Linked DNA regions of Homo sapiens: region 1 is linked to region 2. Evidence: fine-mapped expression QTL. A gene starts in region 2. The other region holds a variant in brackets. All regions are shown on one strand. Distances are from middle to middle. Region 1 overlaps TBC1D12 (TBC1 domain family member 12). Region 2 holds the start of PLCE1 (phospholipase C epsilon 1).

Region 1 (5,380 bases), 530 kb before region 2:
TGTCAACTAAAAAAAATATTTTAAAACTTCAAAAGAGTGAAAAGAAAAAGAAATCTTAATTCCATTAAACCACATAGCTTAAGAAATTAACTTTTAGAAAATGTAATATACATTGTTACATTGTTGCAATTACGGTTTTTTTGTTTAGCTTTTTTTTTTTTTTTTTTTGAGACGGAGTCTTGCTCTGTAGCCCAGGCTGGAGTGCAGTGGCGTGATCCCGGCTCACTGCAACCTTGGCCTCCTGGGTTCAAGCGATTCTCGTGCCTCAGCCTCCTGACTTACTGCAACCTTGGCCTCCTGGGTTCAAGCAATTCTCGTGCCTCAGCCTCCCGAGTGGCTGGGACTACAGGCACAGGCCACCACATCCGGCGTATTTTTAGTAGAAACAGGGTTTCACCATGTTGGCCAGGCTGGTCTGGAACTCCTGAGCTCAGGTGATTTGCCCACCTCGGCTTCCCAAAGTGCTAGGATTACAGGCATGAGCCACCATGCCCAGCCATTATATTTTCTTTAAAAAATGTTTATTTATATTGTATAATACTTGAACAGCAATGATTCGACCTTCACTATGACATTCTACTTCTGCATCTCAATTTCTTCAGCTCTAAAATGATGAATTTGGATTACTTCCAGTTCTAAAATCCCACCTCTCTTACAACTAAAAAAACCCTAAATATTCCTCTTCAGTAAAATCAGTGTTGGTCATGTTGTAGTTAACTTTATAAAGAATATGGTTTCTGGAACTGGACTGCTGAGGTTTTAGTTTCTATTCTGCCATTTATTAACTGTGAAATATTAGGTATGGTACTCAAGCCTATCAAAATTTCAGTATCAATTATCCAGGCATGGTGACGCATACCTGTAATCCCAACTACTCAGGAGGCTGAGGTGGGAGGAATGCTTGAGCCCAGGAGTTCCAGGTGGGAGGAGCTGTGATTGCGCCACTGCACTCCAACCCGGGCAACAGAACTAGACTGTCTCAAAAAATAAAAAATAAAAAAAAAATTTTTTAATGAACGAAAAAATAAAAAACAAAATTTCAGGTTCCCCATCAGTATGTGGTAAAAATTACAGTACATATCTTTTTTTTTTTTTTTTTAATGGAGTCTCGCTCTGTCTAGAGTGCTGTGGCGCGATCTCGACTCACTGCAACCTCCAACTCCCTGGTTCAAGGGATTCTCCAACCTCAGCCTCCCAAGTAGCTGGGACTACAGGCATGCACCACCATGCCTGGCTAATTTTTCTATTTTTAGTAGAAATCGGGTTTCACCATGTTGGCCAGGATGGTCTCGATCTCCTGACCTCGTGATCCGCCTGCCTCGGCCTCCCAAAGTACTGGGATTACAGGCGTGAGCCATCATGCCCTGGTTTACAGTACATATCTTATGTGGTTGTTCTGATTAAACAGAAAAAAAGTATGTGTGGTAGAAACTGGCTGTTTACCAAACCATTTCTTTTTCTTTCTGGGCAAACAGCTAAACCACATTTTGCATCTTCACTTGCAGTTAGTTGTGGCCACATGACTGAGTCCTGGCCAGTGGAATGTGAGAGGAGGAGATGCGTAATACCTCTAGGCTTAGCTTCCCAAAATCTCCCCTTGTGAGTCTCCTTGTTCTCTCCCCTTCTGTGAAAACCCTGAAAATGCCTTGTTAAAGACGGTGGAAGTAAAAAATGGAAGGAACGTTGGTGCCTGAATTACAGGTTGTAGGAGAGCTGTATGCCTATTAGGAACACCATTAATATCATTAGTCTTAATATGACAAACAAAAAGTCTAAAAAACTTTGAACTTTAAACACAAGTAATAAAATGGTGATCCTGTCTGCAGTATACATGATTTGGCAACATACATAATTTTTTTTTAATAGGATCTCGTTCTGTCACCCAGGCTGGAGGACAGTGGTGCAATCATAGCTCACTGTAACCTTAAACTCCTGTGCTCAAGCAATCCTCCCACCTCAGCCTCCTGAGTAGCTGGGACTACAGGAATGCACGACTATGTCTGGCCAATTTTTTTATTTTTATTTTTTGTAGAAATGGGGTCTTGCTGTGGTGCCCAGGCTGGTCTCAAACTCCTGGCCTCCAGCAATCCTCCCGCCTTGGCCTCCCAAAGTGCTGGGACTACAGGCGTCAGCCACTGCACTTGGCCTTTTTTTTTAAGCTAGAGAAAATCTAGGAAATAAAATTGTGTGTGGAACAGTAAAAAGCTGAGCTATTCATATGTGAAACTTGGAGAAAGTATATCGTATTTACATTTATTACATTTTTAAAAAAAATTTCAGACAATATGTAAGAAGGGAGATCAAATTAAAAAATTCAAATTGGTGTCATCTTGGGGAAAAAAAGCTTGATAAAACCTTGAAATAAAAAGAAACAATATGAAGCCCTTAGTAAAGAAACACTATTATAACTATCATAAGCCCTTGTGTGTTAATAATAAAATAAATAGCAACTAACTCTGAGAGCTTAGTATGTGCTAGGCATTGAATGAGATAATCCACGTAAAACACCCTCGCTACAACTCAAGATAAAGATAATATTATTCCCAATTTATAGACAAAAAACTGAAACACAAACTGAGAGATTCTGATTTCAACCCAGAGTCTATGCTCTTTTTTTTTTTTTTTTTTTTTTTTT[G/TTTG]AGATAGAGTTTCGCTCTGTTGTCCAGGCTGCAGTGCTGGGGTGTGATCTCGGTTCACTGCAACATCTGCCTCTCAGGTTCCAACAATTGTCCTGCTGCAGCCTACAGCGACTACACCCAGCTAAGTTCTTTTTTTTTTTTTTTTTTTTGAGCTGGAGTCTCGATCTGTCACCAGGCTGGAGTGCAGTATCGCAATCTTGGCTCACTGCAACCTCCCGCCTCCTGGGTTCAAGCGATTCTCCTGCCTCAGCCTCCCAAGTAGCTGGGATTACAGGTGCATGCCACTATACCTGGCTAATTTTTGTACTTTTAGTAGAGACAGGGTTTCACCATGTTAGTCAGGCTGGTTTCGAACTCCTGACCTCGTGATCCACCCACCAAAGTGCTAAGATTACAGGCATGAGCCACCGTGCCTGGCCAAGACTAAGTTTTTGTATATTTAGTAGAGACGGGGTTTCGCCATGTGGGACAGGCTGGTCTTGAACTCCTGACCTCAGGTGATCCGCCCACCTCGGCCTCCCAAAGTGCTCGGATTACAGACATGAGCCACCACACCCAGCCGAGTCCATGCTCTTAATCAAATGCGTCCCCACAAAAATTTGGAAGTTTCTAAATTTGTAAAAGAAGGCTCTTTATATGTAAAATCCTGCACATGAGATTTACTCTAGTTCCTAAAACACACAAAAAGTTATACTTTATTTCCTTTTCATTATTATATATTACGTATGTTATGACTTACCAGTCTATCAAGTATATATCTGGTGTAAGACTGTAAGATTTGAAGTGAAGAAATAATTTGGAAAGATTTTCTTCAAAGAATACTTCAAATGTTGCAAAATATTTCAACATCTAAAGATTAAAAAATCAATAAAATTATGAAAGTATATAGTCTAGAAATAAAGAAATTAAACGCTTAAACACTAACAGGAAATCGTGCTCATTAAGAATCTCATCTTTTTCTGAGTCTTCTCAGCAAACATTCATTAATAAACTATAATATAATGATAAGTTTATATTAGATTAGATTGTTTTGGCCTTCTAATTATTGTTTTTCACTCTAAGAGGGCATTCAAACTACAGAAACAATGGAAAACATGATCCATTCATACCATGCTGTGATCCACACGAAAAAAGGCCAACTGGCATGGCTTATTCAGGAGATTGGCAAATGCGATAAAGGCATCTGCCTCTTCCAAATTGAGAATGAGTACTGCTGCAATGAAGGACATCCCTTGGACCTTCAAAGGGAGAAAAATTTAGTCAAAATGGACTTACAATAATAAATCTATATAGTTTATTTTATTGTACTCCTGAAAAATTACAGTGACATTACAAAGTAGAATTAACCAAGATTTCTTTTTTCCTTCCCAGCAAAGGTAAATACAGAGAGCCCCTAATGATTACGAAATCTCCCTAATTTCTTGTTCATATGGTGTGGTTTTTCAACATTAGGGAGAATTTTTGAAAAACAAAAAAGTATCAGATTTTACTGCTACAAAAGGCTATCTCAGCGTATTACCTAGTTTTCATTTCCTCTCAGTCTGAATTCTTTCAAAATAGAGTACAGAATCACAAAATTTAATAAAAATCAGGTGATTATTTTCATTGTTATAACACATCTGAGTAAAAAATGAAGGACTCAGAATAAAAGAGATCTATCAGAAGTGCTGCTGAAATACCAAGAAAGGAGACGTTGTGGGGGTTGAGCCTGGAGTCCTGGAAAAGCAAGAGACAGAAATAGGAAAAAACCTAAAATGGAAAAGAAGCATGAACTAAGACACAAAAATGGGAACAATAGGACCAGCTCAGCTGGAGTAAGGAAAGGCATTTAGAGAAGGTAGGATGTGTTTATGTTGTGAAAGACCTTGAGTAAAAGGCTAAGCTGTATAGATGTTTGCTTCTTGCTTGTAAGTTATTGGCAGCTATCATATACTTCTTCTCCTGTTTTTTTTTTGTTTTTTTTTTTTTTTTGGTTTCTTTTTTTTGAAGCAGGGTCTCACTCAAGTCACCTAGGCTGGAATGCAGTGGCATATCATCTCACTGCAACCTCTGCCTCCCAGCTCCAGCTATCCTCCTGCCTCAGCCTCCTGAGTAGCTGAGACTATGGGTGTGTACCACCACGCCTGTCCAGCCCATACATTTGTTTAATTAAAAAAAAAAGTTATCACTTACTTCTAGAAGAGATTTGTATAATGGACTTACACAGTGAGACCATTAAGAATAACTGCAATGGGCCAGGCGCAGTGGCTCACGCCTGTAATCCCAACACTTTGGGAGGCCGAGGCGGGCGGATCACCTGAGGTCAGGAGTTCAAGACCAGCCTGGCTAACATGGTGAAACCCTGTCTCTACTAAAAATACAAAAAATTAACCGGGCGTGGTGGCAGGTGCCTGTAGTCCTAGCTACTCAGGAGGCTGAGGCAGGAGAATGGCGTGAACCTGGGAGGCGGAGCTTGCAGTAAGCCAAGATTGCGCCACTGCACTCCAGACTGGGTGACAGAGCGAGACTCGGTCTCAAAAAAAAAAGAACACCTGCAATGATAACTCTGTCTCTTGTTCCCAGCCAAGTGTTTTGAAAGGGATGCCTACAATCACTATCTCTATTTTCTCAGCTCCCTTTTCTTTTATTTTTTTATTTTTTTGAGATGGAGTTTCACCCTTTTAGCCCAGGCTGGAGTGCAATGGTGTGATCTCAGCTCACTGCAACCTCCGCCTCCCGGATTCAAGCGATTCTCCTGCCTCAGCC
Region 2 (5,380 bases):
ATTTCATTTAACTAATTTCAATTCAAATGTAAATAGCCATATGTGGCTAGTGACTACCATGTTGGACAATGTAGCCTCCGAGGGCTTGGTTCCCAATCTGGCCCACGAAAATCTATTTAAGCCATAACACAGATGAATTATAGCCTCGGTAAAAACCCTGCATTCTGCATCCAGGGAGCAGAGAGGAACACATGATGCTAGAGAGAGTTCTGCCCTTCTTTGTAGGCCACATGGTTGGCCTATAACAAAATGCATCTTTGATATCGTCTTCCTCTCTTTCTCCATTCCCTACTCCTCCATCTCCAACTCTCCTCTTTGGGCCTTACATAACTAAATCACATGCTTCCCTAAAACCCTATCAGAACCTTCCACCCCTCTTCCAGAAGCACCATGTTTCCTAATCACCTGTCTTCCCTCGCCTCAACCAAACCCCTACTTGCTCAATGCCACAGATCTCAACTGAACGTTGGGAGGAAAGCAACTTCAGCAAACAAATTCACACTCTTAGCTGCTTCTACTGTTTTTGGCTTTTCCTCTGCTTCTCCTTCTGAACCCAGAAGCTCTGTTTTATTGTTCTTCCACCGCAGAAGTAGTTCCGGCAGAGAGAGAAGGCATTAAGACTAAAGCAACTGTCCTATATAGGCGCCTGTCAGCCAGGTGTGTGGAACACACACGCGCGCGCACACACACACACACACACGTGCAGCAAGCCTCACTCTGTGCAAATCCCTCCTCTTGCCCAGGCATGGGAAACGTCCCCTGCTGTCTACTTTAGAAAACTCTTCCACCATGCACAGTATTTTTTCAATCTTCTTTTATTCATTTAGAAAGTTACAGGTAACAAATTGCACATCAAACAGTTTTTTTAAAGTATACAACAAAAGCCCAGAGAAGAATGTGACTAAGAATGGTTGTAAATAGAAAAACAAAACCAACCGCCTTCATTGGAATCTAGCTTCTAACCCACTGGAGTATGGAATTTTTAATGACAGGTCAAACTTGGACCACATCCCAGGAGTTTATGTTACTAAGAGGACTGGAAGAATGTCCCTCCAGTTCAATCTGGCTTCTTACCTGGTAAGACATGGCTCCTGGGTATAAAGGGAATTTCCCCCATGGGGCTGTAAATAAAGGATAGTGTTAATGGTAAACATTATACATTCCTCTAGCTCCTTTCAATTATATTATCTCCTTCTCCAAAGTAGATATTTATGTTGTAAAACCAAAGTCTTAAGATTTAATACTGGCCCACAATTATCTCTAGAGTCTTCTAGGTGCAAGCATTTTGCCATGAAAGCCACAGCAAATGCCTTCAGTAGGGAAAATGAGACATCTACATAAATAACTCCCAGAAGGTAGAGAGCAGAAAGGGCCCTGGAGAAAAAATGCTGCAGAAATCAGAGCAGGGGGAGGTTGGCTGTTTCAGGAAAAGCCTCACACCACCAGCAAAACACAGTTTGAAGGATGGTTAGACTTTAGAGTGGTGGATGTGGGGGAAGATGTGCCATCAGATGGTCTAGATGACAACACCATCAGACATTCTTCAGAAAAGTATTTATGAAGACATCGATGCATACAATAACCTAGAGATAGTCCACCTCTCTCCTCAATGACAACTGGGCACCTGTACAAGCACCTATGGGGTCACCTGCTTCCACCTCCCAAGTCAGGCTCTCAAAAATTCTCCCTAGTGGGGTCAAGCATTCTTGGCCTCAGTAGTGCCCATTCTGTGGCAGCGGCCCTGCCCTACCTCTACGGGGGGTATAAGAAACATGAAAACATACCAATCCTGCAGAGATCTAAAAGACCTACGGGCAAATTTTGCATAATGCAACTGAAATTATGACCTTCGTGCAAATAAAACTTTTCGAAGACGTGAATCCTACTTAACAGGTATTCAGGGAACTCACTATTTAAAATGACACTGATTAATCACTAAATGAGTCTTACACTGAATAATTGGTTAAGTCGGCTGAACTCAGTGTCTGATGGCTTAAATACAGAGCGAGGGGCGAAAGCTTCCACAAATTTACGCTGTGCACCTAACATTCGCCACGACAGAAGACTTCTTGCTCTAGTGTATTTATTACTGTAGCATTAAAGGACTTGAAGGCAAAGCTAGCTATTCTAGTTATCAGTTAGAGCGGGACCTGGTCCAATATTGTATTTTCTAGGACTTGATGTACACAAATCTCTCCAGGAACAATCTCTTGAGCACTTTCCTTGAAATACCGCTGCTAAGTACCGCCACAAAAAGAGCTTACGTTTTTCTTTGCACTGGCCACCTCCACACCGTATTCACAACACGAAGGGGCGACCTGAGGCAGGCGTCTGGAGTGAAGGCACTGGCAGGGTGTCCTTTAGCCCCTGCGAGGGCGGCCTGCATGCCCTGGAGGACCGCCCGCCTCGGGTCCCCCGGGAGCGCGAGGACACTTTTCCGCCAGGTACGCGGAGTCGGGCTGCTCCCTTAGGCGGGTCGACTGCCTTGGGAGAGAACCAGCCCATCCTTCCCTTTCTCCAGTCCTCAGGAACCGAGCTACAGAGTCGCTTCCTCACCTCTTGGCTCCTGGCGAGTCTCGCCGGCGTCCCCAAGCGCAGCGTCCCTCTGGGACCAGCCGTCCGCGCGCCTGTCGCTAGCGGCGTCGGGTGTCCCCGCTACTGTGTGTCAGCTGCAGAGCCGATGCCCAGGAACGCGCAGGAGCCAGGCAAGTGCCCGAGAGGCAGAGCCCGGGAGGCAGAGCCCGGGAGGTAGAGCCCGGGCGCGCCGCCGCTGCCCCTCCCGCCGCGCGAGCCCGCCGCCCGCCGCGTTGCCCACGTTGCCCAGCGTTACCGTGTGGACCCGCGCCGTTCACAGTCCGCTCCCGCCGAGATGTGCGCGCTGCCCGGACAGCGGCGGCTGCGCGGGCGGCAGCGGGGCCCCCGCCCTGGGCCGGGCTTTCCCAGAACTCGCCCGCCCCGGGTGAGAGGCCGCTAGCGCCACCGCGGGCGGCCGGGCGGGGGAGCGGCCTGTGCCGGGCCCGCCCCCGGCTCCTGCCGCGCGGGGAAGGCGGGCGCGGAGCGAGGACCCGGCCGCCTCCCCCGGAGCTGGCTGCTGGCGGCGCGACCCCTTCCCAGACCCCTGGCCCTGACCCCTAGGAGCCATCCTTTCTGGCGGGAGCCAGAGAGAGCGCTCCTGGGGCGCCCGGCTCCGGGAAGGGCGGGAACTCTGCACACCTCAGGCGGCGGGAATTTACTCTCACACTACCCCAGGGAACCACCCCTGGTTGACAGATATGGAAACTGAGGTTCACGGCAGATAAAGGACACGATCAAGGTCTCTGTAGTAGATGGCAGCACCAAGTCTCGAATCTGTTCTGTCACTCGTTCATTTAATACATATTCATTGAGCCCCATCAATGTGCCCAGCGTTGTGCCAGGCTCCGGAAATACTCCTTTTGCTGGTAATGGTGGCCATCCAGGACTGCGGACTCCAAATCCAGTACTCTTTCATTGCTCAAGCAAACCTGAAGATCTTCACAACTAGAAACTACAGGCTTTGCACAGAACTTCCTTAGCCGCTGGAGCGGCTTTTATGAGTCTTAGGAGAGCCAAGGACCTGGAAAAAAAAATCAAATCATCATCCTCCTCCCTTTCGCCTAAACCTGTGCCTCCTCCCTCTACCTGTTCTAATGGAAGACCGTTCCCTAGGCCTGACCTCTTCTCCTACATCCGATCAGGACCCATTCCTGTGGCCCATATCGCCTCCCACTGTCCTCTCCCTTGGACCAAATCAATCCTTCAAACCACCGCTGTATTATTCTTCCTTTTTTACAACTTTAATCTATGCAGAAAACTTCACTGGCTCCCTATTGCCCTCCAAACTAACTCTCCATGGCTGTGTAACCCAGCATGCCCTGGCTAATAAGGATCACCCAACAGAATGTCTCTCCCACTCTAGCTCTGTACCTGAACTTAAGCTGAGCCTTCTACCTGGAGCATCTCCTCCCACACACTTTCCTCCTGCTCATGTTTGACCCTTTCTTTCGGGTCCCTCTTAAAAGTGATCTCTCCTTCTTGGAGGCTCCAGAACACAGGAGAGGTTGGAGCAAGAAAGCACAGGAGGCCCAAAGAATCCTGCTGTTAAGAAAAATCTGCCAGTCTGGTCCTTAAACTGTCTTGCTGTTTTCTCACCACTAGGACTTTAATGAAAACTAACATGATTGCCTCCCTGGAGAGCTGATTTCAGAAAGGTCTCTGCAGAGGGCTCTAAAGAAATTCTTTGTTCCTTAAGATCTTGGCATTTTAGCACTAGGACAGTGAGAAGTGGTAATTTACTCAATCCCTGAGGCTATGTTATCCTGAACAAGTAAATAAAGGGCTGAGGAAAGAGGTAGCATCACTGACAATAAACAAGGTAGGCTATTTATTTAATATACAGTATTATATTATGGTTTTATAATTCATTTAATGATCAAATAATATCAAACTTCATCCATCACCTGGCACCCCCAAAGACTTTTTTTTTTTAATTTGGCACATGGGAATAGATAGCTACAAACTGGTAGATGCACAAGCAGTTAACATTGAATCCTCCAAATGAGTCATTGCATGATTAGTAAGCAAGGCAAATCTAGGTCCGTTGAGCAGGAAAGTTATCCAAGTGTGATAATCACTGTGGCCCCATCCCTAGAAAGGGGCGCCTTCCTCAAATCTTTGCAAAGAGAGCAGGTCCAGATCAGTGTCCTTTGCTCGCCCCATGGCTCCCTCTCTAAACGAGATTGGAGGGAAGTCGTGTCCCCGAGGCTGCCTCACCACATTGGAATGTCTGAGCTAACAGTACTTCCAGAGTGTTCATTGCTCCTCTGAACAGCACTGCCCAGACTTTCTGGAGATTTTAATTCACTCCCCAACCTCGCCAACAGTTGCACACAAGGTGCCTTTTTTACACCCTGCTCTCTGTTCAGTGAAACACACAGACCATCTCAGGGGAACAATGGCTCCATTCAAGACTTTTTCAGAAGTGCACCATATAACCTCCACTCTGTGGGCTGCTGCCAGCCATTATCTAGAGGAAGAAAGACTGTCAGATAAAGCGCCTGAGAATTGGGAAAGCACTGGATAATTTCCATGGAAAATTCAGCTTCAGTAAACTAAGTTATGCATCTCTTTATACAAGACCATTCTGCATAGACAACAACAACAGCCCCAAGAAACAATCCTGTGGAGACTTTATTTCAGTAAAGTGCATCTATGTTTGAAATTTCAGAAGAAAACACACATGTCTTTTGAGCTTATTACATTACATACTGGTCTCCAGTCAATGGAAATTGATTTAAATACATGATAAACATAGAGACTAGGGAATTTAAGTAGTAAAATTATTTTAAGAAACGGAACCATC

The links. PIP is the estimated chance that this variant, and not a neighbour inherited with it, causes the effect. A credible set is the group of variants that fine-mapping cannot tell apart.
Region 1: its variant is the best candidate, but not a certain one, in a credible set for the expression of PLCE1 in subcutaneous fat (TwinsUK, PIP 0.82).

The regions. Positions count from the first base shown.
Region 1 is chr10:94,520,448-94,525,827 of GRCh38, reverse strand. TBC1D12 (TBC1 domain family member 12) reads right to left here. Exons shown (of 13, transcript NM_015188.2): 10 at 3,745-3,873; 11 at 3,375-3,484. Among named protein-coding and RNA genes, the nearest start is that of HELLS, 23 kb to the left of the region's middle. The variant G/TTTG (reference allele first, on the strand shown) is at 2,636.
Region 2 is chr10:93,991,435-93,996,814 of GRCh38, reverse strand. PLCE1 (phospholipase C epsilon 1) reads right to left here and starts at 2,884. Exons shown (of 33, transcript NM_016341.4): 1 at 2,557-2,884. It overlaps LOC105378438 (a long non-coding RNA gene), which reads right to left. Exons shown (of 4, transcript XR_946215.2): 4 at 3,096-3,595. RefSeq lists a silencer at 2,781-3,070.